Linked DNA regions of Homo sapiens. The protein of the gene in region 1 interacts with the protein of each later gene in a pairwise test. Each region holds a gene or a part of one and is shown on either strand. Other genes may lie near its edges. The genes, in order: DOK3, DTX2, A1CF and DOK4.

Region 1 (7,879 bases):
GTGCTGGCGCTCCCTGCCCCCCACCTCTGCCACCTGCGAGTCTGTGGAAAAGCTAAAGGACCCTTTACCTTAGCCACTCCACAGATCTTCACAGAGGGCTGCTGTGAGTGCGACCCTCAAGGAGCTCCCAGTCTAATGGGGAGGTTAGTTGGGGGAGGACAGAGGGATGTGGCCAGGTACTGTGGGAGCACGGCAGATGGAATGGCCCACCTTGCTGGGGACATCTGGGAGGTGGGAGCTCAGAGAAGGCTTTTCCGGGAAGGTGACATTTGAATTGGGAAGAGGGGCAGTCCAGGCTGAAAGCACAGAGGCGGACGGCCCAGGAAGGTCAGGGTCATTCAGTGGTCAGTCAAGGAGGTTGAGGCACTGGGGTAGGGCTGGATCCCAGCGGCACCTGTGTCCTTTCAGTGCTGTGCAGTCCTCTGCAGACCACCAGAGGCCCTGGACCAGGCCCTCTGTTCACAGATGGGCCAGACCCCATCCCGGAGGCCTTCCTCCACGGACTTCTGAGTATTAGGGAGATGGTGAGCACAGAAAAGGTGAAGCCAGTGGGCCAGGAAAGCGAGCCCAGAGTAAAGCCTCTGGAGCTTGATGACAGCGCTTCTGGGTGAGAGGCTGACCCAGGAGAAGGGGGAAGGCGCGCCAGGCCGAGCGGTGGTGAAGATGGCTGCAGTGCCTTGGGAAAGAGCTGTGTGCTATACATAGGGCAGGTGGTGGGAATGATGAGAAGGGGACAGACAAAGAAATAGGAAGGAGGACAGAGAGCAGAGCAGATGCAGGGTGCCTGCTTGCCTCTAGATAGGTGATAGGCCAGTGGCCCCAACCTCAGGGTCTCTCCTTGGTCCCCAGCGGTGTACACATGATGGTGGCCACCCCGGGGCGCCTCATGGATTTGCTGCAGAAGAAGATGGTCAGCCTAGACATCTGTCGCTACCTGGCCCTGGACGAGGCTGACCGCATGATCGACATGGGCTTCGAGGGTGACATCCGTACCATCTTCTCCTACTTCAAGGTGCCGCCCCCGCCCGGCCAGGGCACCCTGCACCGCCCCCCACTGCACGCCACATCAGACTGCAGGGACCCCATGCCCCTGGCCACCCCAACCCACTGCTCATACTTTGTGGGCTGTGTCTCAGTTGCTCAGCTTCCCCAGACCCCATGCCCCTCAGCCCAGCCCTGTGTGCCCTTGGTCGCAGCCCCCCTCTTCCTCAGGGCCAGCGACAGACCCTGCTCTTCAGTGCCACCATGCCGAAGAAGATTCAGAACTTTGCTAAGAGTGCCCTTGTAAAGCCTGTGACCATCAATGTGGGGCGCGCTGGGGCTGCCAGCCTGGATGTCATCCAGGTGGGCAGGTGCTCCTGATGGGCGGTCTCTCACCTGTGGGGGCTGGATCTGACAAGTCTCCCTGAAGCTGATTGGAGCCGGGGGTCCACCTTGTGGGAACCGGGGGTTTCATTCAAAGCCCCTGACGCTTAACCAGGGCCATTTTTAGGGCACCAGCCCTTGGCGGCCAGAGGCTTCTGGTCACCTCCTGGTCCAGATGACGGGCCATGGCAGGGCTGTGGCGGGTAAGCCTAATCTCAAGATCACCTGACCTGATCTTTGTGGTGGCAGGAGGTAGAATATGTGAAGGAGGAGGCCAAGATGGTGTACCTGCTCGAGTGCCTGCAGAAGACACCCCCGCCTGTGAGTGCAGCCAGGCCAGGCCGGGGCCAGAGTCCCCAGGACCAGGGAGGGCTTTGGAGGGGACAGAGTGCCAGGGGAGGTGCGGTGGGTGCCCAGGCAGTTAGCCCCTGACTGGAGTTGGTCTTTCCGGACAGGTACTCATCTTTGCAGAGAAGAAGGCAGACGTGGACGCCATCCACGAGTACCTGCTGCTCAAGGGGGTTGAGGCCGTAGCCATCCATGGGGGCAAAGGTCAGGGTGGTGCAAGCACTGGCTTGGACCCTGCTGCAGTAGCAGTGCTTTACCTAATGCCTTCCCCTGCCTGGTTGGCCTGCCACTCCCCTGTCCCATGGTGGCTCTGACAGTGTCTGCCTGACCCTCCCCAGACCAGGAGGAACGGACTAAGGCCATCGAGGCATTCCGGGAGGGCAAGAAGGATGTCCTAGTAGCCACAGACGTTGCCTCCAAGGGCCTGGACTTCCCTGCCATCCAGCACGTCATCAATTATGACATGCCAGAGGAGATTGAGAACTATGGTAAGAGCCTGGGGCCCAAGGGCATGGGTTAGGCCGGAAAAGGGCCAAGCCAGGCCCCTAGTGTCCAGCGATGGGCCAGAGACTCTGTCCTTCTCTCTGCAGTACACCGGATTGGCCGCACCGGGCGCTCGGGAAACACAGGCATCGCCACTACCTTCATCAACAAAGCGTGTGGTGAGTCTGTTACCAGCGCCACCTTAGCTGTTCCCTGGGTCCCCTGCCTGTGGCCACCCAGGTTCTGGCCACAGAGCCCAGGATGGGCCCTGATGCTTCCCCACTCCTCCCCCAGATGAGTCAGTGCTGATGGACCTCAAAGCGCTGCTGCTAGAAGCCAAGCAGAAGGTGCCGCCCGTGCTGCAGGTGCTGCATTGCGGGGATGAGTCCATGCTGGACATTGGAGGTGACTGCAGAGCGGGATCCCCGAGTCCCCAGCCGGCAGGTGGCAAGGAGGGGTGCTGGAAGTCAGAAACGTGAAACCGGTGGACCGAGGGTGCCTAACGGGGGGCCCGAAGTCCAGGGCATGGATCCTGGTCCTTGACTTGGCTGACCCCTGTCCCCATTCCCCCAGGAGAGCGCGGCTGTGCCTTCTGCGGGGGCCTGGGTCATCGGATCACTGACTGCCCCAAACTCGAGGCTATGCAGACCAAGCAGGTCAGCAACATCGGTCGCAAGGACTACCTGGCCCACAGCTCCATGGACTTCTGAGCCGACAGTCTTCCCTTCTCTCCAAGAGGCCTCAGTCCCCAAGACTGCCACCAGTCTACACATACAGCAGCCCCCTGGACAGAATCAGCATTTCAGCTCAGCTGGCCTGGGATGGGCCAGGCTGGTCCTGGCTGCCTGTTCCCTGTGCTCTTCAGAATTACTGTTTTTGTTTCCTTTTACCCCAGCTGCCATTAAAGCCCAAACCTCTAGCCCAGCCCTGGCCCTGCCTCTGTGTTTCACCTCATCCGCCCCCTGGTTCCTGGACAGACGTCACCTCTGACCTCTGGAGCCCCTCTGAGGCAAGGCCCCAGCATCTCCCACTAGCACTGCCAACACCTGGCCTGCTGGTACTTGGCTGTGGAAGGAGCCACCGAGCTGGTGCCCGCCTCTGGGGACTCTGGGTCTCTCCACTGGGTTGTCTGAATTTATGACTCAAGGAGGGACCACATTGGCGGGCCAAGGAGAAGTGCTTGGATTCTCTGGTCTCCCTGGCCAGCTGTCATAGCTCTCAGGCCCACTCTTCCTGTCAGGGCTGTGATGTTTCAGGGACTTCTCCTGAAGCCCCTTGGGAGGCTGCTTCTTGCCTCAGGACCCCCACCCACTGCCTGCCTGTGCCAGCCACCTGGAGGGAGCCCTCCATTCCGTTGACTGAGGAGGCAGCAGATGTCATAGAACTGCCATTTAGGCCACAAGCTCTCCCTAAGCCTGCTCTGTGCCCAGCTCTGCTGAGCTGTGAGGACCTAGATGGGCCAGGGAGATGGCTGCCTGGGAAGCCGTCAGGCGAGGGGAGAGAAAGACGCACACGCAGAAACGTGGACGGCAGTCACAAGACCGCTAGCAGATGAGGCAGGATCTCAGCATCTGGTGAGAGGTAGGCAGGGACGGCACAGGCGGCCACACTTCCTCTGAGCCAGGCACTTTGCATGTATGGCCACATGCTCATTCCAGTGAGACAGCGGTTGCTCAAGCCATATTTGTCACTTGATATGTGGCATTGGGCAAGTTACTTAATTTTTCTGAGCACCGATTTCCTCACTGTTGAAATGGCGATGAGAACGCAAAGGATGTGGCGTCTGAGGTGGACGGAGCTTAGGGCTGCTTGGGCCACAGTGGGCACAGAGCTGGGTGCCAGGAGGCCTTCAGGACATATTTCCTGGCCAAGTGCATTCCCAAATGGCATTCCTTATCCTCTTCCATGTTCTCTCCCAGAGGTGGTGCTGAATGACCTGAGGCTGTTCCAGAATAAAGGTATACACACAGCCCCGCTATTGGCATCTTGCTAGGCAAGCCAACAAAAGGCGCCCCCAGCAGGAAGCAAAGCTTTAAATGAACATGTGACCTCTCCGGGGCCCCCTGGGACCTGCCACCCACACTCACGTGGTTGGGGCCATTCAGGGCTGTGGGTCCCATGTGGACTGGATGCCCAGCGTGAGTGTATACCGTGAGGGCCTTTGAGCTCTCGGACAGCGTGGAGTGGTCAAGGGAGGCCTCCAGGAGGAAGAGGTGGCCAACCGCCCCAGGCAGCACAGTGGTGAGGGGGCCCTGGAGGGGCTGGCCTGGGGGAGATGCAGGCCAGAACACACAGGTCCCTGAGTGTTGGGCTGAGGAGCCTGGGCTGCACCCCAGGAAGGGGAGAGACAGGTTGGTCTTGGGTTGTGGAGAGTGCTGCATGGAGGCCCAGTGGGGCAGTGGCCCCTGGGGGGATGCCAAAGGCTGGTGATGTTCAGTGGCTCGTGAGGTGGAGAGGAGCAGGTGAACACGAGAGAGATTTCAGGGAGAAAGAAAAGCAGCAAGATGGGGTGAGGCGCTCAAACCAGGACGCCGAGTGGGAAAGCCAGGAGTTGGCTAGAGAAGGGTCCTGGGTGGAGGCAGGGCCAGGGAGTGTCAGGCCCAGGGTGCGCAGCTGCCCGGGGCGGGACGGGGGAGGGGCGGGAACTCATGACTCGGGGAGCCAGACTGCGATCAGACGCGCGTGCCCAGCTGAACCAGGTGCGTGAGAAGGCTGCCTTCAGGTGGCCGGGGGCTCCCTCCAGGTAGGTGTGGGCACCTTGGGCAGCCAGAACCCCAGGGAGGAAATACATGCTGCCCCCAGCCCCTGAGCTGAAGACAGGCTCCCCTCCCCCCGGCCTGCAGCTGTCTCTAGACGGAGGGACGGGAAGTGGCCAGAAGGGGAAGTGTGAGGAGTTCCCGTCCAGCCTGTCATCAGTCTCCCCAGGTCTTGAAGCGGCGGCCCTGCTCCTGGCCGTGACCATGGACCCTCTGGAGACCCCTATCAAGGATGGCATCCTCTACCAGCAGCATGTCAAGTTTGGCAAGGTGGGGACCCCTGGCTGCCAGGCAGCTGCCAAGGACCAACAGTGGGTGGAGAATGCAGCCTCTGCCCCTGCCTCGGACAGCCCAGGCAGACCTGGGAGACTTGGGAAGGGAGTCAGGGTGGAGGATCCCACCCAGGTATGGGGAGTGGAATGGAGTGCGGGTGTCAGCCTGAGACGGCAGGGGCTGAGCAGGCTCTGCCAGACCCTGCCTCCGGGAGAGATGGGAAATACAGGAGTGGGAGAGGGTCGAAGGCTCAAACCTCCCAGCAGGGAAGAGCTTCACAGCCTCTGACCCATGAAATAGTGCCACCGAGGGCCCTAAATAGGGTGAGGGGCTGAGCTGGAGGAGGCCTCAAGGGTGGAGCCCCTCCCTGCAGCGGCACTGTCCTGGGAGCAAGGAGGCAGGGGGTCACCTCTCCTCGGCAGCAGCCCCACACCCCCGCAGCTCAGCTGCAGCTGCTGCCCAGGCAGATAAACCGTCAGTTTCCTTTGCTCGAAGCTATTTGCATGTTTCCTTCCTTAACAGCTTGAGGCAGAGGCCTCCCTCCCACCCCAGCTCTTGGCCTGTGGCCCAAGTGCCCCTTTTTGGGGGTGAGAGGGAACCAATATAATGGCAGTGTCTGGTGGTCTGCCCGGCCACTGGATGCTTTACAAACATGACCCAGTAGCAGTCCCAGCTCGAGTTCTCATGGCCTTTTGAGAGACGACATTGATGCTTGTGGAGGTCACAGTTAGGAAAGAGCGGGCTGGGATTTGAACCCAGGGCTGACCAATCCCAAGCATAGCCAAGGCCTCCTTACCTGGCTCCCTGAGAAACTGGGGAGCAGAGGCCCGCTCCTGGCTGGGAGCGTTTGCCGAGCAGCTTGTGCTGAGCCAAGTGGCACGGACAATCTGCCACCCAAGGGTCTTCACCCTCCCGCTCCCCTCCCGCAGAAGTGCTGGCGGAAGGTGTGGGCTCTGCTGTATGCAGGAGGCCCATCAGGCGTGGCACGGCTGGAGAGCTGGGAGGTCCGGGATGGTGGCCTGGGAGCAGCGGGTGACAGGTCGGCAGGGCCTGGCCGGCGAGGGGAGCGACGGGTCATCCGCCTGGCTGACTGTGTGTCCGTGCTGCCGGCTGACGGCGAGAGCTGCCCCCGGGACACCGGTGCCTTCCTGCTCACCACCACCGAGCGAAGCCATCTACTGGCTGCTCAGCACCGCCAGGCCTGGATGGGCCCCATCTGCCAGCTGGCCTTCCCGGTGAGTGCGGCGAGCAGGGGGGCGATTGGGCTGGGGCACCTGCCCCCGACTTGTCCACCTCCACGCTCACATCCCATCACCCAGCAAGCTCCACCGAGCACCTACAAGCCTGGGAAAAGTAAATCTATAATGACTCTCAGAGGGCCGTGCGTGCCATGGAGAAAATGGACCGCCAGGGGAGCAGGAGGAAGTGAGGGAGCGACGGGCAGGGTGGCCAGGGAAGGCCTCTCAGAGGAGGGCCCTGAATGACAGGAACCCACTGGGCAAAGGTCTGAGGACAGGGGCAGCCTGGGGAGTTGTGAACAGAGGGAGTCCCGTGGGCAGAGGCCCCGAGGCCGGACAGTGTGGGGTGTTTAAGGGCAGAAAGAAGGCGACGTGGCTGGAAGGAAAGGAGTGCAGGAGGAAGCCAACTCACAGAGCTTAGGAGAGCGGCTGAAATGCCCTAGGCCATGTGTGTGGTTTTGTTCTGAGTGAGAGGCGAAGGCTTTGGAGGGTTTAAGCCGGACATGTTTGTAAAGCCCCAAAAGGTCTGTGATGGGTCAAAAGGAAGTGAGCCTGGGGGTTCTTCAAAGAGGTAAACAGAGTTACCATGTGGCCCACAGGTCCACTCCTAGGTGTGTGCCCAAGAGAACTTGAACAGGTGTTCAAACAAAACATGTACATGTGAGGCAGGAGGATCGCATGAGCCCCAGAGGTCGAGGCTGCAGTGAGCTGTAATCGTGCCACTTCACTCCAGCCCGGGAGACAGAGCAAGACCCTATCTTAAAAAAAAACCCACATGGACATGAACGTCCATAGCAGCACTACTCACAGCCACCAGAAGGTGGAAACAGCCTACATGGCCATCAGCTGACAAATGGATAAGCAAAACGTGGTCCGTCCGCAAGATGGAATACTACTCAGCCATAAAAACAAACAAACGCCTGGCACAGTAGCTCTTGCCTGTAATCTTAGCACTTTGGGAGGCTGAGGTAGGAGGATTGCTTGAGCCTAGGAATTCAAGATCAGCCTGGGCAACATAGTGAGACCCTGTCTCAAAAAAAAAAAAGAAAAGAAGAAAGAAAGAAATGTACAGACAAGGTAACTCCATTGGGATAGAAATCAGATGAGTGTTGGCAGGAGCTGGAGGAAGGGAGAAGTGGGGAGTGGCTGCTCATGGGTACAGGGCTTCCATGTGGGATGATGGAAAAGTTCTGGAACTAGACAGTGGCAACAGTGCACAGCCTTGTGAGTATACTAAAAAGCACTGGTGGCCGGGTGCGGTGGCTCAGGCCTATAATCCCAGCACTTTGGGAGGCCGAGGCGGGCGGATCACCTGAGGTCAGAAGTTCGAGACCAGCCTCAACATGGAGAAACCCCGTCTCTACTAAAAATACAGAAGTAGCTGGGCATGGTGGTGCATGCCTGTAATGCCAGCTA
Region 2 (7,021 bases), on another chromosome or scaffold:
TAATGGTAACAGTAATAGCAGGCCTGGTGCAGTGGCTCACACCTTGTGATCCCAGCACTTTGACTGGCTGAGGCAGAAGGACTGCTTTGAGCCCAGGGGTTCAAAGTTGCAGTGAGCTATGATCGTGCCACTACACTCCAACCTGGGCAACAGAGCGAGACCCTGTCTCTTTAAAAAAAAATAAATAACAGCCAAGCAGGAACCCGCATCCAGGAACACAGCCCTTTGCTCCTCCCTCAGAATGAATGGAAACCAGGCTGGGCGCGGTGGCTCACACCTGTAATCCCAGCACTTTGGGAGGCCAAGGCGGGCGGATCACGAGGTCAGGAGATCGAGACCATCGTGGCTAACATGGTGAAACCCTGTCTCTACTAAAAATACAAAAAATTAGCCGGGCGCGGTGGCGGGTGCCTGTAGTCCCGGCTACTAGGGAGGCTGAGGCAGGAGAATGGCGTGAACCCAGGAAGTGGAGTTTGCAGTGAGCCAAGATCGCGCCACTGCACTCCAGCCTGGGCGACAGAGCAAGACTCCGTCTCAAAAAAAAAAAAAAAAAAAAAAAGAACGAATGGAAACCAGAAATCAGATATTTATGCCCAAGCAAAGCAGGATTTCGTTCAGCACTACTCCCAGATCGTTAGGGTGCTGACTGAGGATGAGATGGGGCACCCAGAGACAGGAGATGCTACTGCCCGGCTCAAGGAGGTCCTGGAGTACAATGCCATTGGAGGCAAGTATCACCGAGGTTTGATGGTGCTAGTAGCGTTCCGGGAGCTGGTGGAGCCGAGGAAACTGGATGCTGATAGTCTCCAGTGGGCACCGACTGTGGGCTGGTATGCGCAACTGCTGCAAGCTTTCTTCCTGGTGGCAGATGACATTATGGATTCATCCCTTACCTGCCAGGGACAGATCTCCTGGTATCAGAAGCTGGGCATGGGTTTGGATGCCATCAATGATGCTATCCTTCTGGAAGCATGTATCTACTGCCTGCTGAAGCTGTATTGCCGGGAGCAGCCCTATTACCTGAACCTGATGGAGCTCTTCCAGCAGAATTCTTATCAGACTGAGATTGGGCAGACCCTCGACCTCATCACAACCCCCCAGGGCAATGTGGATCTTCGCAGATGCACCGAAAAAAGGCACAAATCTGTTGTCAAGTACAAGACAGCTTTCTACTCCTTCTACCTTCCTGTAGCTGCAGCCATGTACATGTCAAGAATGGATGACAAGAAGGAGCACACCAGTGCCAAGAAGATCCTGCTGGAGATTCAAGAGTTCTTTCAGATTCAGGATGATTACCTTGACTTCTCTGGGGACCCCAGTGTGACTGGCAGAGTTGGCAATGACTTCCAGGACAACAAATGCAGCTGGCTGGTGGTTCAGTGTCTGCTACAGGCCACTCCAGAACAGTACCAGATCCTGAAGGAAAATTACAGGCAGAAGGAGGCCGAGAAGGTGGCCCGGGTGAAGGCACTATACGAGGAGCTGGATCTGCCAGCCGTGTTCTTGCAGTATGAGAAAGACAGTTACAGCCACGTTATGGGTCTCATCGAATAGTACGCAGAGCCCCTGCCCCCAGCCATCTTTCTGGGGCTTGTGCACAAAATCTACAAGTGGAAAAAGTGACCTAGAGACTGCAAGGGCGGGGAGAGAAGGCTCTCAATAAGTAAATTATTGTGTAAAATAAATAAATAAATGAATAACAGCAATGGCTACCAGGTAAAGGTTTACCAGGCACCAGGCACCGTGCTAAGCCCCTCCACCTGACTAGTAATTCTCGTTGGTCCTCACAACTGGGGAAGCGGGATATTTCCATACCACAACTGAGAAAAGTGAGTCACCAGAAGACATGCAGCTTGCCCAAGGATATCCAGGGACTGAGAAAACCCAAATCTGTTTCCAGAGTTCCTGTCTTTCCCACCAAGACAGACTGACGACGGACAAACTGGCCTGTAGATGTGTTTTGCTTGGGTTACTAAGGTTTGGCTTTTAAAAACTGAGCTGATGTTTAAAAATTGGAATATTTGGCCGGGCTCAGTGGCTCACACCTGTAATCCCAGCACTTTGGGAGGCCGAGGCAGGCAGATCATGAGGTCAGGAGAGCGAGACCATCCTGGCTAATGCAGTGAAACCCTGTCTCTACTAAAAAATACAAAAAATTAGCCAAGTGTGGTGGCGAGCGCCTGTAGTCCCAGTTACTCGGGAGGCTGAGGCAGGAGAATTGCTTGAACCTAAGAAGTGGAGGTTGCAGTGAGCCAAGATTATGCCACTGCACTCCAGCTTGGGCGACAGAATGAGAATCCGTCTCAAAAAAAAAAAAAAAAGGAATATTCACAGTAAAAAAAAAAAAAAAAAAAATCTAGATTTCAAGCTTCCCTTGAAAATCAGGAAAGATGGCAATATTTGCAGGCTGGACCTAGATCCATGATCTACCTAGCAACACCAGCTAAACTGCAATGGTGGCTGGAACGTCCTCTCTGGGTGGCCACAGCTACCATGACTCCCTATGGCTAGGGCCAGCATGCTTTTCCTGTAAAGGACAGAAAAAGTCTTTGCAGTGACTCTGCCACTAGACCACAAGAACAACCATAAACAATGTGTAAACAGGAGGGGTTGCATACCAATATAACTTTATGAACAAAATCAGGCAGTGGGGCTGAATGCGGTAGCTCACGCCTGTAATCCCAGCACTTCGGGAGGCTGAGGTGGGTGGATCATTTGAGGCCAGGAGTTTGAGACCAGCCTGGCCAATACAGTGAAACCCCGTATCTACCAAAAAAATACAAAGATGAGCCAGGCGTAGTGGCGTGCACCTGTAGTCCCAGCTACTTGGGAGGCTGGGGCAGGAGAATCACTTGAACCCAGGAGGCGGAGGCTGCAGTGAGCCGAGACTGTGCCACTGTACTCCAGCCTGGGCAACAGAGTTAGACCCTGCCTCAAAAAAAAAAAAAAAAAAAAAATGCTGGGCGTGGTGGCTCACGCCTATAATCCCAGCACTTTGGGAGGCCAAGCGGGGGTGGATCACCTGAGGTCAGGAGTTCGAGACCAGCCTGGCCAACATGGTGAAACCTTGTCTCTACTAAAAATACAAAAATTAGCCAGGCATGGTGGCTGGTGCCTGTAATCCCAGCTACTCAGGAGGCTGAGGCAGGAGAATTTCTTGAACCTGGGAGGCGGAGGCTGCAGTGAGCTGAGATCGTGCCATTGCACTCCAGCCTGGCAACAGAGTGAGACTCCATCTCAAAAAAAAAAAAAAAAAAAAAAAAAAAATGGCAGTGGGCCAGATTTGGCTGAGGGTCCATCGTTTGCAGACCTCTGCCCTGTGGCCTCCCTCACATCTATTACTGTACTTTCACACTCCTACAGTTGAGCAATACTTCTCTGAACTCATGTCTCTATCAAAAAGTGAGAGAGTGCTCTGCCTCTGGCTAGCTTTGCCAACAACACGCCCTGCCCTCTGCAGACATGTCAGCCTTTGCCCAACACCTAAGGGTGAAATACAGCATCCAACAGCACAGCAGGCAGCATGCCAACAGCACCCGCCCCTGGGAAGCCCCAGGTGCTCCCCAGAGCCACACCGGGCGTTGATAACATTCTCTGCATCCGGGAATCAGGCCCTGGCCTCCCTCTCCCCTCCTCCCCTCCTCTCTCCATTCCCCCCGGATCCTCAGGATCTGTTCCCATGGCTTCAATATTCCCTTGCATACAGATCACCCAAAGCTGTCCTCGGGATGCCCTGCCCGAGCCCCTCAAACCGTCAGCTCCTGCCATCTGGACCTCCTGGCAGTGCCCAGGGCAGGTCAGGATGTTTCATGCCCTTCGTCCCCCACTGAGAATGCCCATCGCACTTGTCCACTTACTCATCTCTTAATTCCTAGCTCAAGACTCTGCCCTGTGAGATCTTTCCTAAGTTCGCTCCCGCTCCACAGGCAGAAGTGGCCACTTCTAACAATCAATGCCCACATGACGTCTCAGTGCCATTATCTGTCTCCTCCACTGGAGAATGCATACGCTCCTTAAAGGCAAGGGTTATGTTCAGGAAAAGACTTCAAACCAGACCCAGAAAACTGAGTACTAGGGAAAAAATACATTTCGCTATGTTAAAATGAAGAATGGCTGATCAACAGAAGACACCTTAAAGAAAGAGGAATAATAGGTTAAAAGCTGGGAGAAGATATTTGCAATAGACACGAAGGATTAAAATCAGCAATATATAAAGAGCCCTATAGATCAACAAAAAATAAAGCACCAAGAACCCTAATGAAAAACTGGCAAAAGACATGAATATTTCACAGGAAACACATATGCCAATAAACATAAGAGGAGATATTCAGCAGCAGGGCTCAGGGACCTAGAAACCAAGTTCCCAAAGATTCCATTTTCTACCCATTCACTTGGCCAACAGCAAATGTTGGTAAGACTGTGGAGCTGCAAGACACAGGACACTGCTGGTAAAGTGGATACTGGTATAAGCACTACATTCAGGAAATGGTCTAGCAATAGCTACGAAAGATGAACACTGCCGAGCATGGTGGCTCATGTCTATCATCCCAGCACTTTGGGAGGCCAAGGCGGGTGAATTGCTTGAGCCCAGGAGTTCAAGACCAGCCTGGGCAACACAGTGAAGCTGCCTCTGCACAAACTTTAAAAATTAGCTAAGCATGGTAGCCTGTGCCTGTAGTCCCAGCTATTCAGGAGGCTGAAGGGGATGGATCCATTGAACCCAGGAATTTGGGGCGGCAGTGATCCGTGATTATGCCACTGCACTCCAGCTGCCTGGGTTACAAGGTGAGACACTGTCTCTAAAAAAAGAAAGAAATAGGCCAGGCGCGGTGCCTCACACCTGTAATCCCAGCACTTTGGGAGGCCGAGGCAGGTGGATCACCTGAGGTCAGGAGTTTGAGACCAGTCTGACTAACATGGAGAAACTCCGTCTCTACTAAAAATACAAAATTAGCCGGGCATGGTGGCGCATGCCTGTAATCCTAGCTACTCCGGAGTCTGAGGCAGGAGAATCGGGAGTAGCTTGAACCCGGGAGGTGGAGGTTGCAGTGAGCCGAGATCGTGCCATTGCACTCCAGCCTAGGCAATAAGAGTGAAACTCTGCCTCAAAGAAAAAAAAAAAAGAGACAGAGAAACAAAGAAATACACATGTAAGATAAAACTAAGAAAAAAATGAAAGAAAGGAGATAATGATTACCTCAGGGTAAGAACAGAAAACAAGTTCAAATGAAATGATTAGATGTTCTAAGGGGACCTGATAAAGTAGAAAACTTTTTAAAGTTTTTTAAAATTAAAAAAAAAAGATTAGATATATACTTTTGTTTCATGATCCCAGCTTTTGTTTTGGGTGCCTAGATTGCCAGAGCTTACTACATTTATTAAAAATAACTTACTAAATAAGGAAAAGTAGGTCAGGCATGAACACTGAGGAGTGTGTACTAATCAATCTTGTTCTCAGCTTAGCTGATAAGGCAAACACCAAAGAGACTGCTGAATTCATCTTTGTACTCCAAGTGCCAAACACAAGCCTCGGCGCACAGAATTTCGGGAGGCATTTGGGGAATGAATCAGGGCTCTTCTCTCTAGCCCATGGCCTCATTTCCTGTTGGCCTCTTAATACCTTCAACACGTCTGAGGCCAAACGCATCTTCCTTCCTCATTCTCCTTTTCCCCCTGGATTTCCCCCAGGCGGCCAAGAGAAAAACCTCAGATTCTCAGTCCTCCGCAGCCCGCTCCCCCAGGCCTAGCAGCTGCCTGCCCTGCTCTCTCCTCACCTCTGAAGCCCCCTGCTAACACCTGGCCGGGACCCTTATGCCTCTCACTTTACCCCCTCCCTGCCGGGCGCAGTGGCTCACGCCTGTAATCCCAGCACTTTGGGAGGCCTCGGTGGGTGCATCACCTGAGGTCAGGAGTTCGACACCAGCCTGGCCAACAGAGGGAAACCCCGTCTCTACTAAAAATACAAAAATTAGCCAGGCATGGTGGCAGGTGCTTGTAGTCCTAGCTACTTGGGAAGCTGAGGCAGGAGAATCACTTGAACCCGGGAGGTGGAGGTTGCAGTGAGCCAGGATGGCGCCACTGCACTCCAGCCTGGGTAACAGAGCGAGACTCCATCTCAAAAAAACAAAACAAAACAAAAAAACAAATAAGTGCTCCCTCCCAAACAGCTTCTCCAACTCTGCTTTCTAACCCTCTTGTACATCTCAGATGGGGGGGCAGAAAAGATTAAGCTTCCTGAACTAACGTTCTGATCTTGTCTTTTACACACCTCCCCTGGATCTCTAGAATGAAATTCAAATTCCTTAGGCTGACAGTCAAAGCCGATCACAATACCGCCCTTCCCTCGCTATCAACAATATTTGCCGGTGCCCTTCCCTTCCATCCCCTCATCTATACCTCCCTCTCCACAATTCCCTTCCAGAGTGTAAATGAGGATCCACTACTCCCATGTGCATCAGCGTGTCTGTCCCCACCCCCATGACTCTGCTTCACCCTGAATCCCACCCACTTGGTCCCCTGTCCTCACCTTACCCACCCTTTTATGGCCCAATTTAAACAGCACTTCCCACGATGCCTGGATGTGCCCAGCAGAAAGCAAACACCCTCTAAATCAGCCAGGCATGATGGTGTGCACCTGTAAGTCCAGCTACTCGGGAAGCTGAGGCACAAGAACCTCTTGAGCCTGGGAGGTGAAGTTGAGCAGTGAGCTGAGATTGCACCACCGCTCTCCAGCCTGGGTGACAGAGTAAGACCCTGTCTCAAAAAGTAAACAAACAAAACAAAACAACAACAACAAAAAGAATGAAAGAAAACACCCTCTTAGCAAGTTCCTTTTCAGTTCTCTATGTTCACTTTATCTCTTCAACTAGACTATAAGCAACTGAGGGCAAAACCACTCACCTGCCTCTCCCCACGAAGAAGCTGGCATGATGTATGTAAGAAGACCGCCACAAAGCGAATAATCCAGTCTAAACCCATTCCACATGTTCCAGTGTGCTCCATTAAAATGTCCCTCACGAGG
Region 3 (7,021 bases), on another chromosome or scaffold:
GCCTGGATCTTAACTTGTTTTCTGCTTTTGGTACATATGTATCCTTACCTGTTGCCCTCTCTACACTCCTAGCTCTATTTCCCACCCCATCTTCCATTACTGGACTTACCCTGAGCTCAGCTAAAGTGTAGAGTGAAAGAAATGTCACTGCTTACTACCCTCTAGGCATGGCATATCTGTTCTGCACACCACTGGAAGATCAATCTCCCTAAAATATTCCTTCTAGTATTCTCCTGCCCCAAATCCTTCACTGGACCCATCACTAACTAGAAAGAAACAGTTCAGCCCCTTAACCTGACATTCAGTGCCTGCCATGACCTGGTCGTAACTTGACTTTCCTGATTTTCTTTCAATACAAGTCTGGAGCTATTCCATGCTCAAGTCCATCAGGTCTCCTAGGCACACCAGTTGCTTTTTATTTTACCTAGGCGCCTTTGTCCTTGTTTCCCATTTCCCACATGCCTAGGATTCCCATTATTCTTTCTATAATTTCCCTGGCTAAGCCAAATTCATGTCTATTCCATCAGATCTTGGGTATATGTGATTGTGTGTATGTATAGATGTATAAGTGAACTAGCACATATGTGCAGACATGAATACGTATATACACACAGGGCCGAATAAATTCTGAGAGGTCAGTGTTTGCAGCACATCACACAAGAAACCTACCCCTTTCCTTTTGTAATTGCTCTGACTTCAATACTGTCTTATAAATTGTCCAGCCTGTGCTCCACTTGGACAAGCTTATCAGAAACTCAGAAACAGGAATACTCATAAGTGCTCTGTCCTTGTCAACACTGAAGATTGAGAGATGAATGATAGGTTTTTAACCCCAAAAAGATCTTGGAAAATTTTAACAGCAGATGCAATGTGAGTGGGCCTCATCCAATCAATTGAAAACCTGAATAAAACATAAAAGCTGAGTAAGAGGGAGCTGGGCCTGCATGACAGAGCAGGGACATTGGCCTTTCCTGATCTTCGGACTTGAAATATTGGCTCTTCTTGCGTCTCTAACCTGATGGCTTCTGGACTGGAACTTACACTATTGCTTTTCTGGGTCTCAAGCCTTTGGACTTGGGCTGGAACTATGCATGGGCTCCCCTGAATCTCCAGCTTGCTTACTGCAAATCTTGGGACTCCTGCTTCTATAATTGCATGAGCCAATCCCATAGAATAAATCTCTTTATTTGTATTTATATGTGTAGACTTACATATTTATATGCATACTTACACAAATTTATATTTGTTTTATGCATTTATAAATGTATTGCCTATATATACATATACTATGTTTTCTTCTAGAGAACACTGAATAATACATACACGTAACTCTGTTTTTGTGCTGTTATTGTTCTAGTACCTGTAAGATCAGACTACTACAGGTGACTGTTGTGCTATCTTTATTCAATTATGATACTCAACTATTCCCAAAATGCCTGACTTCTAGAAGATTCCTGGGGAAGAGAGTTGACAGAATTTAGAAATTATAGAATGACATGGCCTAATGAAAAAAGCAGAATGTCTTTGTATATATGTTTAATTTTTAAGTTGTCTTTTGAATTGGTAAAGTGGTAATCATGGTATACAATGTAGATATTCTTCAGCTTAAAAGCAGTTGATTATTCAATAGTCCTGGTACCAATTATTTGCGTGGTATATTATAGAGACCTGATGAGCTGTGTGTGGTCTATTTCATTCATTCATACTTCTAGTGTTATGTTTCTCCCTCTCTTTTTAACCTTATTGAGACTCTGACCTTCTGAACTTAGTTGCTGCATCTGGTTTCCTCAGACCAATTTGGAGAAATTTAAGTTGAAAACTCAATTTTCACCAAGTCTGCCAATCACTGACTAATGGAGTACATTTGATCTCTGAGTGAAGCTTTAAAAAATCCATCTAAAGCTCTGTGTTACAGTGGCACAGAAGCAATCTGACACTTGTAAGGAAAGATAGCCTTATGTTTCTATTTTAAAAGCCATATTATATTTGTTCTGATTTTATGCTAATTTACATGCATCATCATAAGTGGCTTTGAGTACTGATCTTTTCTTTCATAGTGATGAAAATAATAAAGTCTTAGAGATTTGCATTCTGGTGTGAGGATCTGTATTTCTCTTTTACTTCCTCTGATAATTACCCAGTTTCCTTCAAATCATTCTCTACTAATTTAGAAGACCCTGTCTGTGATAGGGAGTGTCTCTGTCTTAGAAAAAACTGAAAGAGGGCCGGGCGCCGTGGCTCACGCCTGTAATCCCCCCACTTTGGGAGGCTGAGGCAGGAGGATCACGAGGTCAGGAGATCGAGACCATCCTGGCTAACAAGGTGAAACCCTGTCTCTACCAAAAATACAAAAAATTAGCCAGTTGTGGTGGCACATGCTTGTAGTCCCAGCTACTCAGGAGGCTGAGGCAGGAGAATCGCTTGAACCCGGGAAGCGGAGGTTGCAGTGAGCTGAGATCACGCTACTACACTCCAGCCTGGGTGACAGAGTGAGACTCCATCTCAAAAAGAAAAAAAAGAAAAAAAGAGAAAAACTGCCAGAGAATCAGGGAGAGACTGTTTCAAATTTCTACTACAAGCCAGTGATGGGGATAGAATTAATTTCTAAGCCACCTCATTCTACTTTAAAAAGCACTGTACATTTTTACCTCATGGCCTCTTTCTCATCTATTTTCCTCTAGTAAAGCATTTTGTAATCAACACAGAAATATGATGAGAGTTATAGCTAAATGGCTAAAGTTTATGCACACTTGCTTGGTATTATTCTAAGCACTTTACAATTTCTGATCTAATTATTGAAACAACCCTGACTTTACAGAAGAGGAAATAGTCACAGAGTTCAGTAATTTGCCTAGAGTTAAATTGTAGCAAGTGGTAGAGCCAGAATTTGTATCCAAGCATTCCAGATCCAGAGCCTTCTGCTTTAACATATGATTTGTCTCCCACTCTGCTATGCCAACATCACAGGTCAGAGCTTTGGATCATTGGGCTTTAGGAAATCCTTTGCAATTCTGAGTTACTAAATTATTATAGAAAGGATTTGATTTTACGGCTTGTTTTTAAATGTCAGAGAAAACTAAGAGTTTCCAGGCATTATAGGTTTTTCTCTTAAAATATCTTAAGGGTCCATATAATGGCATTTGCTGCATGATGTCAATTCAAGTTAATGCACCTGTTAAATATCTGTGATTTAATGAGAAAACTAGACATGGATGAATTAGTATGTTGCAAGTGTGATACTCAAATGACTTTACTAACAAAATTCTTTAATAAGTTAATTCCTTAAAGATCAGACAAATACCTGCTACTCAAGTCCCTTATATCACCCCCAAGTTACTTGTGACACTTCCTCCCTGGACCATCTGCTCTTGACATCTTCTCTTCCCTATCATCAAAACTTGCTTCCCACAGGGCTTTGCCAGGCTAGTCTGTTAAGCGATTTTAGTCCCTATCACTCACACCCCGCATCCCAACTAATTTGTATTTTAACAAAACTTGTGGGAACAAACTCTTATTCTAAATGAGTAACTCTATTCAGGTTGGTGGAGCTGCTATTTGGGAGCATCTGAGTCTCAATTTAAAGTTCTGAATTAGGTCAGTTTAAATATGGGACTCCCTTAGCAGACACAGACCTAGCAGCCCAATTATTTTTTCCATGGGGAAAAGGGTATGTCCTCCAGGTAGGAGGTGCTATGTCCTCTTCAGACACTAACAGAATTTGAGTGTAATTGCAACCAAGTCATTCATCACAATTACTTTTTATTTTTATCAATGCCTCCATGGTTTATCCTGTCACTATGTTCATGGTGCCTGTATTAGTCTGTTCTCATACTGCTACAAAGAAATACCTGAGACTGGGTAATTTATAAAGAAAGAGGTTTAATTGACTCACAGTTCTGCATGGCTGGGGAGGCCTCAGGAAACTCACAATCATGGTGGAAGGCAAAGGGGAAGCAAGCTTAGGCCTTCTTATGTGACAGCAGGGGAGAGAAGTAGTGTGTACAGAAGGAAAAGTCAAACACTTATAAAACCACCAGGTCTCATGAGAATTCACTCATTATCATGAAAACAGCATGGGGGAAACCACCCCCATAATCCTATCACTTCTCACCAGATTCTTTCCTTCAGGCCTAAGGATTACAATTCAAGATGAGATTTGGGTGGGGACAAAAAGCTAAACCATATCCATGTCTGTGTCTGCATGTATTTCCTCTGTGATGTGGGCCTGTCAGTCTCTCCAAGTCACAAAATGGGTCTCCTTTAACTGAGTCTCTGGCTAGGTCAGTCCATGAGTCTGGGCACAGCAAGGAAGGTGAGACTTGGAGTGAAGGGAGTATTCCTGTTTAACTATAGGGATTCTATTAATTCGTCTCTCAGAATTTTCACAGAGAATCAGGCTGAATTAGAAATGCTTTACAGTGGGAAGTGGTATAATGGAAAAGTATCCACAGAGGGTTCAGGTTCTGCTCTTGGGTTCTCATTCTAACAAAAACCCAAGCTGGGGAACCCAACTTGCTTTTCTCTGTCAAATAAAGGATCTCAAAAGTTTTCTTCAGTTCTAAGCCTTGATGCTTCCCAGTGTTCCATTTGTCCTTTGTTCACAGGGTGGCCTGTGCCAGACTGCCCGGACTCACTCCTGCACCACTTATTAGTGGTGTGACCTGGGGCAAATTTCTCTGTGTCCCTAAGCTGTAGCTGCTTTATTGGAAAAATGGCGTAGCAATAGTACCCATTCCATAGAGTGATGGAGGATTAAATGAGTTAACCTATGTGCCTGGCATGTGGCAGGATGTAAGAGGATGTAAGAGATTTTATTAACATCATTGTTATCATCATCGTAGGGTGCCAATTATAATTAGTTGGTAGTAAGTACATGAATGGCGAGGAACTCTTAGGGATCTTCGGAAAAGAAGGTTAGAAAGAGGATTCCTGAGATGAACATCTATATGTGCCAACACAGTTTTCCCCCCATGGAACCTGATTTTGATTTCTGACTTCCATTTCAAATAATCAGAGGCATTAGAGTTTAATTACATCTAATAATTTAAAGTACATTTTAGTTCATGCTGAAGGCCCCAGATGGAAAGATAAGCACTAAGCAGAATCCCAGTAGAAGAGCTGGATAGAATACTAAAATCAATAGAAATAAAAAATTTCATTTGTGCACAATGTTTTGCCAGTCCCCTGCCAGGCAGGTAGGAGATTTTATAAACCTCTGTTCCTTTATATCTTTCACTGTGTTAGTCACAGCATCTGGACTGAGTTATAATTACATCTTTTTAGGGCTGTTTTCTTCTAGGTCCCATATGGGGGTGGTTCTTCTCTCACCTTCCACATGGACCTTTATGTCCTCTCTTCACTGTTTTCATTTAGACTCTTTTTTTTTTTTTGAGGTGGAGTCTCACTCTGTCGCCTAGGCTGGAGTGCAATGGTGCGATCTCGGCTCACTGCAACCTTCGCCTCCTGGGTTCAAGTGATTTTCCCGCCTCAGCCTCCTGGGTAGCTGGGATTACAGGTACCCACCACCATGCCTGGCTAATTTTTGTATTTTTCTGGAGGTGGGGTTTCGTCATGTTAGCCAGACTGGTCTTGAACTCCTGACCTCAGGTGATCTGCCTGCCTTGGCCTCCCATAGTGTTCGAATTACAGGCGTGAGCCACTGCGCCCGGCCTCATCTAGCCTCTTAACTGATAGGTACATTAGTTAATGTCCAGTGAAGTTGGACATCATTGTGTTACATAAACAGAGTTGGGCTTATAAACGATAGGTGGGAGCATCTTTCAGTTAATCAGATTTGTACAATTGGAATGGTGAATATTGACACAGTTACCTTGAAGAAACTAGGCATACTGAATTGACATCAACTATAAGAAATTTGCCATTAAAAATCTTTATAAGTTCTTGTATATGAAAAGCTTTATAAACTAGAATATCCTATGGAAATAAGATATTGTAGTTAGTTCTACTACTTAAACCTAGTGATTTTTAAATCAATTGGGCATCCTAAAACAATGAATAGTTTTTAATTGCTGGAGGGAGGGAAGGCATCACTACATCACTACTGCAGGTGGGATTTTATAGAATTATAAACCAATCTGCTCACTTAGACATTCTGTCTGCCTAAATTGTCATGTGTTAATTCTCTTTAGTCATATTACATCTGGAGCAGAGCATTGCACTTAACTGTGCAAATCAGAAGGATTTATCTTACATCCTTATTAGTATTTCTCTCTTAATATTACCAGGGACCAATTCCTATTGAATAAACAAACTTGGAAAATGTTCTCCATGTGATTGTTAATACATATATGCATAAAACTCCACATATAAATCTATATAGGATAAAAATCTTAGCTTACATATGTTTAAAAGAAATCAAATTAGAGCTCTCAAGATACCAGCATATCTTATACAGGACGATGATTTTTTACAAAAGGGCATGTTTTAATTTTTGGATTGCATCAATCAAAAATATTCAATACAAAATTTTAGTTTATTAAATTAAAAATTCTAAGTGGTCATTAAAACTGATAACCTAGACCGGGCATGTTGGCTCATGCCTGTAATCCCAGCACTTTGGGAGGCTGAGGCAGGCAGATCATGAGTTCAGGAGTTCGAGACCAGCCTAGCCAACATAATGAAACCCCGTCTCTACTAAAAATACAAAAGTTAGCCTGGCATGGTGGCGTGTGCCTGTAATCCCAGCTACTCGGGAGGCTGAGGCACAAGAATCACTTGAATCCAGGAGGTGGAGGTTGTGATGAGCTGAGATTGCACCACCACTCCAGCCTAGGCAACAGAACGATACTCCATCTCATACAAACAAACCATCATCAACAACAAAAAACTGATAACCTAGTTGGAGTAGATTTGATGAAATGAAATGATGAACTAGCTTTCCTGGTTGAATCAGCAGCAAACATTTGTTAATAACTCTCCAGATTTTACAGGATCAGGCCAAGGAGCAGATGGGATACAGATTTCTAATACAGAATGTCACCGCAAGAGTGCTGCTCCTTTT
Region 4 (7,021 bases), on another chromosome or scaffold:
TACAGGCACGTGCCACATGCCCAGCTTATTTTTTCATTTTTTGTAGAGACGGGGTCTCTCTATGTTGCCGGATCTGGTCTTGAACTCCTGGCCCCAAGTGATCCTCCCACTTTGGCCTCCCAAAGTGTTGGGATTACAGGTGTGAGCCACTGTGCCTGGTCTGCTCTCCACTTCTTGCTGTCCTATTGGGCCTTCACAGGCTCAGCTTGGGGGCCGCCTCGCTTGCTTAACACAGTGCATTCCTTCTGGAGGATGGTGGGTTGGTTCTGGGCCCCCCCCTCACCACTTGACCCCACTGCCTGTCAAATTTGTGGGTCCACCTATTGGCCCTGACCTTTCCCTCCCCTTCCGAACCCCTCTTTGCCCACCATTTTGGGTCCTAGGTTAGGTCTTGCTCTTGCAAACATCATTAGGGACTAAGTGTGGCCAGGGGTCCCTGTGACTCAGGGCCGGAGTGAGCTGGCAGGACTTTGGCACCCAGCCTTCCCCGTGAAGGTCACTCTTCCCGCTGGGGACCTGGGGTATGGGACGGGGTGGGGCCTATGGACAGACGCAGCAGGAGCACTCCTGCGAGCTTGGGGCCACAGTCCCTGGTGGGGCAACACTGGGAAGGAGCAGGCTGGCTTCTGGTGGTTTCACCGCCCTGTCTGGGCAGCAACTCTTGAAGAAAACTATATATATATACATACACACAGCCCTTGGAGTTTTCAAGGCAGAAGCTCTGGCCAGGCGCAGTTGCTCACACCTGTAATCTCAGCACTCAGGGAGGCCGAGCCTTGTGGATCACTTGACCCCAGGAGTTCAAGACCAGCCTGGGCAACATGGTGAAAACCCATCTCTAGGGGCCGGGCGCAGTGGCTCACGCCTGTAATCCCAGAACGTTGGAAGGCCGAGGCGGGTGGATCACAAGGTCAGGAGATCGAGACCATCCTGGCTAACACGGTGAAACCCCGTCTTTACTAAAAATATGAAACAATTAGCCGGGTATGGTGGTGGGCTCCTGTAGTCCCAGCTACTCGGGAGGCTGAGGAAGGAGAATGGCGTGAACCCGGGAGGCGGAGCTTGCAATGAGCCGAGATTGGGCCACTGCACTCCAGCCTGGGCAATAGAGTGAGACTCCGTCTCAAAAAAAAAAAAAAAAAAAAACAAAAGCCCCATCTCTACAAACAAGTTTTTAAAAATTAGCTGGGCATGGTGGTATGTACCTGCGGTCCCAGCTATTCAGGAGGCTGAGGTGGGTGGATCACTTGAGCCTGGGTGGTTGAGGCTGCCGTAAGCCGTGATGGCACCCCTGCACTCCAGCCTGGGTGACAGAGCAGGACACTGTCTCAAAAGAAGAAAAAGAAGGCCGGGCGCAGTGGCTCACGCCTGTAATCCCAGCACTTTGGGAGGCCGAGGCGGGCGGATCATGAGGTCAGGAGATCGAGACCATCCTGGCTAACACGGTGAAACCCCGTCTCTACTAAAAATACCGAAAATTAGCCGAGCATGGTGGTGGGAGCCTGTAGTTCCAGCTACTCGGGAAGCCGAGGCAGGAGAATGGCGTGAACCCAGGAGGCAGAGGTTGCAGTGAGCCGAGATCGCGCCGCTGCACTCCAGCCTGGGCGACAGAGGGAGACTCCGTCTCAAAAAAGAAAAAGAAAAAGAAAAAGGGTAGAAGCTCTGTGTCCCAAGTGGGCAAGCAGGTGCCTCATGAATTCATTTCCTCATTTAAAGTAGGTAGATTTATTCTCATTTTTTTCCAATGGGGAAATTAAGGCACAGGGTCTTAAGCGGCTTGCCCAGGACCACACAGCCAGCTGGATTCACACTCCGGGCTGTGCTATGTCTGAGCTATGTTGGATGAACCTGGGGGTCCAGTGGCTTCCTGTAGGCGTGTTCTGACTGGGGGCTTCCACACTGTAGACCCACAGCCAGTGGTCAGCCTGCTAATCATCTTGGAGAGGAACTCCTGAGCTGGTCCTTGCTCTGAGGAGAAGGCAGCCCCAGAGGCAGGCGGTGAAGACAGAGCTGAGAAAATTGACCCATCTCTGGCTGCCAGAGCCCAGGTGTAGCAGAGCTGTTGGGGATCAGTTGCCAGTGAGGGGACCCCAGACCAGACCTTATAGGAGGAATGTAGACTGCCTAACTGTGGGAGGTTCTTGGACCCCAGGGAGCTGGGATAGAGGCAGTGAATGGGCAGGAGTGGAATTGAGGGGCTATCAGGGTGCAAGTGGGATAGGGGCGCATTACCGTCTCTGCCCCTCCCTTGTTTGCGTGTGCCCACTGGGGTAGTCCCATCTGTGCGTGTGCCCACTGGGGTAGTCCCATCTGTTCCTTGTTAGGCACTCAACAGACAGGCCTCCAGGACATTAATTAATGCCAAGCTGCTGGCACAACCAGCAGCATGCCTGTCCCAGGGCCCCGTTCTGGCAGCACAGATACCCAGCTGACCCCAGAAATGCTGCTCCGTTCCCACCCGCTGATCCTGAAGACACAGGGGCCACATTGCTGGCATAACCCTGCCCCCGAGGATGGATGGCAGGGAAGGCTTAGGTGGTGGCAGGCAGCCAGAGACGGCAGCAGGATGTTCCCCCCACAGACTGGTCTCCATCACCACCCTGGACCTTCTCCTTCATCCCTGGCTCTGCCCCAGGCCTGCTGTGTGACCTTAGTCATGTAGCTTACCCTCTCTGGGCAACTTTTCTTTCTCCATCTATAAAATGAAGGGGTTAGACTGGGTCAACACTGAGCCTCCCCCTGAGTCTGAGTCTTTGTTGTCTGTAGATCTGCCTGATTTGGGGTGGCTCTGCTGGTACTCCCACTTCCTGCTCCATATCTACCTCCCCTTGGTATCCCACATTGTCTCCTGCATGTCTTGTTGCCCCAGGGCCCTGACTGGTACTCCTATAATTAACTCCTGCCCATGCTCAGGACATGGAGGGCCTGCTTGGCTTGGCCAGACCCAGTGGCCTGTTGGGGCCCGGGCCCCACCCTCACGGACTGGCCAGCGTTCCCAACCCCAGGGCCAGGGCAAGGCGTCTGCTCCCACAGTGGCTACCTCCAGCCGGCCCAGCACATTCCTCAGGCTTATCTGGAGGCCCGCCCCACTGGACTCTGCCCTCCCACCCAGGAAGCAGCACCCAGAGCTGCGTGCGGAAGAGTTGCAGGGCCTGGGAACAGGCCCTGCGTGAGCTCGAGGTAGTGATTCTTAGCCTGGGGCTGGAGAGAAACAGGTAGAGGACCGGGTGGGGCAGGAGGGTAGAGGGGTTTGTGGGGGCTGCTGAGCTGACCAGGCAAATTGTCTTTAACATTGCAGAGCATGGGGTTCACTCAGACACGCAGGGGTCATCTCCTGCGACCCTCCTCCTCCATCTCTGGGAAGCGCTTCCCTGCTACCCCTGGGAGCTCTTGTACCCAGGAAGGGGCTTTTGCTCTTGGCAAGTTGACCTAAATTTGCACCAGAGTTATCACAGTTGATGGGGCCACGATCCCAAAGTGCTGAGGGACAGCAGCTCCCTGCCACTTCCCTTCCTGGGTCCCCACCTCCACAGTAGGAGCCAGAGCCAGTCCTCCCAGGAAGGGGTTAACTGCCAGCCCCAGCCGTGAGGGAGGGGACTGGGCTGGACCATTTTCCTCACTGCCGCCTCCACCTCGGTTTTCCTGAATGGTTCTGTCGTCCTGGGGTGGGGAGGGAAGGGAAGGAAGAAGGGCGGGAGGAAGGAGGGAGGGAAGAGGGAGAGAGGAGGAGTGTGGGAAGAGGAAGGAAAAAAGAGAGCGAGACAGCGAGAGGAAGAGAAAGATGTCACTGTCTCTAATCTCCCTGTCATTTTTATTTCCAGCAGGCGCGGGGCGAAGGAGCTGCTAGAACAATGCTGAGGCGGGTGAGGTGAGGAGCAGCCCCTCGCGGCAGCCCCGACAGAGTGTCTGGAACAGGTGATTGGAGGAGCCGGAGACCCAGGCACCTGGGCATCCTTCCCCTCGCCTCTGCCAGGCCCCGCGCCCCTAAAAGGTGGGAAAACCATGGCGACCAATTTCAGTGACATCGTCAAGCAAGGCTACGTGAAGATGAAGAGCAGGAAGCTCGGGGTGAGTGACCCTGAGCTGCGGAGGGGCCCTGCCAAGGGATGGGGGCCCGAGGACTCGGTCCCAGGCTTGGAGGCATGGCGCGTGGGGCACGCGGCTGCCCTCCGGCTGCCGGGCATCGTGCATCTGTGGTCTCGGGGCTCCTCGCCAGCGTGCTGCCTGGCATGTGCCTGGGCTGGGTTCTGCCTGCTGCAGCCCCCGCCCCAGAGGGCTGGCTGGCATCCCAACAGCTGGGCCAGTGGTGGTGGTAGTGGCAGCAATGGTGGCCACCGATGGGCAGGCGGCTCCCCTGCTATTGTTGAAGTTGTCACCACAGCAGCAGCAGGGGCGGCTGGCAAGGCCGGGCTGTGTCTGAGCTGAGAAGCAGCGTCTCACTTCCCCTGGCCTCCTCTCCCTTCCGTTTGCCCCCCACCCCCGGCCTCCCCTCACCTCTCCTGGCCTCTTTTCTTTTAGGTCATCCTCTCCCCTTGCTTCTGACTGCTTTCCGTGTGCAGATATTTAGTAAATTTTTGGTTGTCGAGTTTAATGTTAAAGAAGTGTTTGAAAAGGGGAGTGGTTGGCTGGGCGAGACGGGGTGGTGTGAGGCACTGAAGCTGATATTTATGTGGTTTCCAAATGAGAACTTTGGGCAGAATGGTCCAGTGCTCTGGGACAGGCTGCTTCCCTCCAAGTTGTTGGTGGGTGACTCTGTGCTTGCTTGGTGCTTGGCCCTGAACTGGGGGCTTGGAGGGGCTACAGAGAAGAGGTCTTACTGGGCATGCATCCTGTCCTACCCTCTGTAGACCCCCAACTGGTGAAGACCCCCTAGAAGACAGGAGCAGAGGGGATCAACTTCATGATCTCGGCGAGGCTGTCTGAGAGCTGCCTCTATTCCTCTGCCAGGCCCCCCTGCCAAAGACAGGTCTGGCAGTTGCCCCTTCCCCTGTAGGAAGGACAGCCCTGGTGACTGAGGTCACCCAAGTCTTGTGTTTGACCCAGGACTCCTGTCCCCTTCTCCCTTCTCTCTCCCATTGCCTTGAAGGGGGCGGGTCGGCTCAGGCTGCTCAAGGATCCCTGGCTCAGCCTGAGTGGGGTTGGGGGGCATGCGGAGTGGGAGAGGGATCTGCCACCCAGCTTCCCTACCTGGGTACCAGACAGAGCAGGGCTGGTCTTGGAGAAGGTGGTTCTGGCCCCACTTCCCCTCCTGTGCCTCCCTGCCCTGGGGCTCAACCTAGTTGAGACTGGGCCCTGGCAGCCATCGGCTACTTTGCTCTTCCTCTGAAAGGGGGATCAGCCCACTGACTTGGAGCACAGAACAAAGAGAGAAGCTGAGGCTGAGGTAGGGAGGCCAAGGAAGCAGAGGCTTCGCTTCTAACATCACTTCTCATTCCTATGGCCCCAGACTTAGCAGGTCCCCAGGGGCCAGCTGGGCTGAGGCCTTGCCCAGGGCAGAGTGTGCCAGGAAGGCACCAGCCACAAGGGCAGCCACTTGGGCTCAGTATCAAACCTGTTCCAGAGGGAGACTGAGTGGCTGACAGGTGGGCACAGCCTGGATGGGGAGGTGGGGCATAGCCAGGCCCTATCCATGCAGGGAATTCTCTTCCCTCTGAAGCCAGGAGCCTCACTTCCCCTGGTGTGAGAGGCTGTGGTCCCTCCCCAGCAGCCATTCTCATCTCAGCCCACAGAGGTGAGGGGGGAGGGGCTGAAAGAGATCAGGAGCCGGCTCTCCTACCTGCCAGGGCCTTTCTCCCGCGGCAGAGCTGTGGCAGAGTGTTTCTGAAGCACTGATCAAAGCCCTGTGCGAAGTGGGAAGGAGGGCTCTTGAGCGCGTGGCTCCCTGGGGCTGTGAATGTGTATCCTGTAACCAGGCAACCGGCATGCTCAGGCCCCCAGGCCTTCTGCCCCTGATGCTGCGGGCTGCATGGAGCCCACCCTGGCAGGGTGTATCTGGGTCGGCAGCATCCATCCATTCATCCATCCATTCATTCACGGTTCCTTCATATGGTCATTCACTTGTTTAGCATGGCTGTTAATGAGGCTACCAGGATATGAGTGAGGATTCTGTGGATAAAATTCAGTGTCTGTCTTAAGGGAGCGCTGCAGCTGAGAGCTGAGGGCTGCTGTGGTTTAGGTGGGTAGGACAGGGGCCAAGCCAGGGTCAGGGGTGCAGGAGCAGACATGCCTCCTAGGGTCCCAGATAGGAGCCAGAAATGGCCTGGCTCTGAGTGGTATCTTGAAATGGGGGCTGCCTAGGGCCACTGCACCCTGGGACCCTGCCTGCCAAGGACCTAGTGTACGCATGGCACAGTAGGGCCGAGGAGGGGTGGGGCCTAGAGGCCCCCTGGCCTCCTCTGCTGTGCTCTCGGCCACCACTCAGTCTCCCTACTGTTTCCAGTAAGAGGAACACCAGAGATGCCTGGGGAACAGGCTCTGTCGGGCTTTTGGAATGCCCGCTGGAAGGAGTAGGTAAACCCCAGCCACAGACTTTGGGCAGAAAAAAGTCTAGGCAGGAGGGAGGGGTCATGCAAGGGCAGCTCTGGCTGGTGGCTGGGGCCAACTCCCTCTCCACCACCCATGAATGATAGGCCAGTCTGTCCCTTCAATCCTAGAGTGGTCACTCCCCTCTGCTCCCCACCCCCTTGGGGGAGTCCCTGAAGCTACAGAGAATGTAGGTAGTTTAAGGTACAGGGGCATCAGCAGTGGCCAGGGCCAGGAGGGAAGGCACCATGCTGTGGGAGGAGCCTCAGATTCCTAGCTCCACCCCTTTACCTCAAACAGCTTTGGGTTCCCAGCTGGAGCAGGGCCCCTTACATTTCAGGGTTGGTAAGAGAATGAAAAGAGAGGGTGAGTGAAAGCCCCAGGAGACAAGAGTGGGGGTTACCTTTGTAAAGACCCTCACCTGACTCAGAGAACTAGGGGCACGGGGATGTACAGGTGGGCAGGGGGAAGGGTCTAATCCCTATCCCCAGGAGACCCC

Evidence for each region.
Region 2: the proteins of DOK3 (region 1) and DTX2 interact in binary tests that used the Homo sapiens proteins (3 or more experiments, as listed by UniProt).
Region 3: the proteins of DOK3 (region 1) and A1CF interact in binary tests that used the Homo sapiens proteins (3 or more experiments, as listed by UniProt).
Region 4: the proteins of DOK3 (region 1) and DOK4 interact in binary tests that used the Homo sapiens proteins (3 or more experiments, as listed by UniProt).

The regions. Positions count from the first base shown.
Region 1 is NC_000005.10:177,506,818-177,514,696, reverse strand, and holds the start of DOK3 (docking protein 3), read left to right. Parts: upstream 1-4,870; 5' UTR 4,871-4,939; intron 4,940-5,039; 5' UTR 5,040-5,156; coding exon 5,157-5,222; intron 5,223-6,154; coding exon 6,155-6,460; intron 6,461-7,879. Other genes in the region: probable ATP-dependent RNA helicase DDX41, read left to right, coding at 850-1,012, 1,213-1,344, 1,615-1,686, 1,821-1,917, 2,052-2,201, 2,304-2,375, 2,491-2,601, 2,770-2,906. UniProt on the Homo sapiens protein: DOK proteins are enzymatically inert adaptor or scaffolding proteins. They provide a docking platform for the assembly of multimolecular signaling complexes. DOK3 is a negative regulator of JNK signaling in B-cells through interaction with INPP5D/SHIP1.
Region 2 is NC_000007.14:76,464,695-76,471,715, reverse strand, and holds part of DTX2 (probable E3 ubiquitin-protein ligase DTX2), read right to left. Parts: intron 1,697-7,021; exon of another isoform or gene 1-1,696. UniProt on the Homo sapiens protein: Regulator of Notch signaling, a signaling pathway involved in cell-cell communications that regulates a broad spectrum of cell-fate determinations.
Region 3 is NC_000010.11:50,875,618-50,882,638, forward strand, and holds part of A1CF (APOBEC1 complementation factor), read right to left. Parts: intron 1-7,021. UniProt on the Homo sapiens protein: Essential component of the apolipoprotein B mRNA editing enzyme complex which is responsible for the postranscriptional editing of a CAA codon for Gln to a UAA codon for stop in APOB mRNA.
Region 4 is NC_000016.10:57,476,489-57,483,509, reverse strand, and holds part of DOK4 (docking protein 4), read left to right. Parts: intron 1-3,120; exon of another isoform or gene 3,121-3,215; intron 3,216-3,752; exon of another isoform or gene 3,753-3,821; 5' UTR 3,822-4,002; coding exon 4,003-4,068; intron 4,069-7,021. UniProt on the Homo sapiens protein: DOK proteins are enzymatically inert adaptor or scaffolding proteins. They provide a docking platform for the assembly of multimolecular signaling complexes.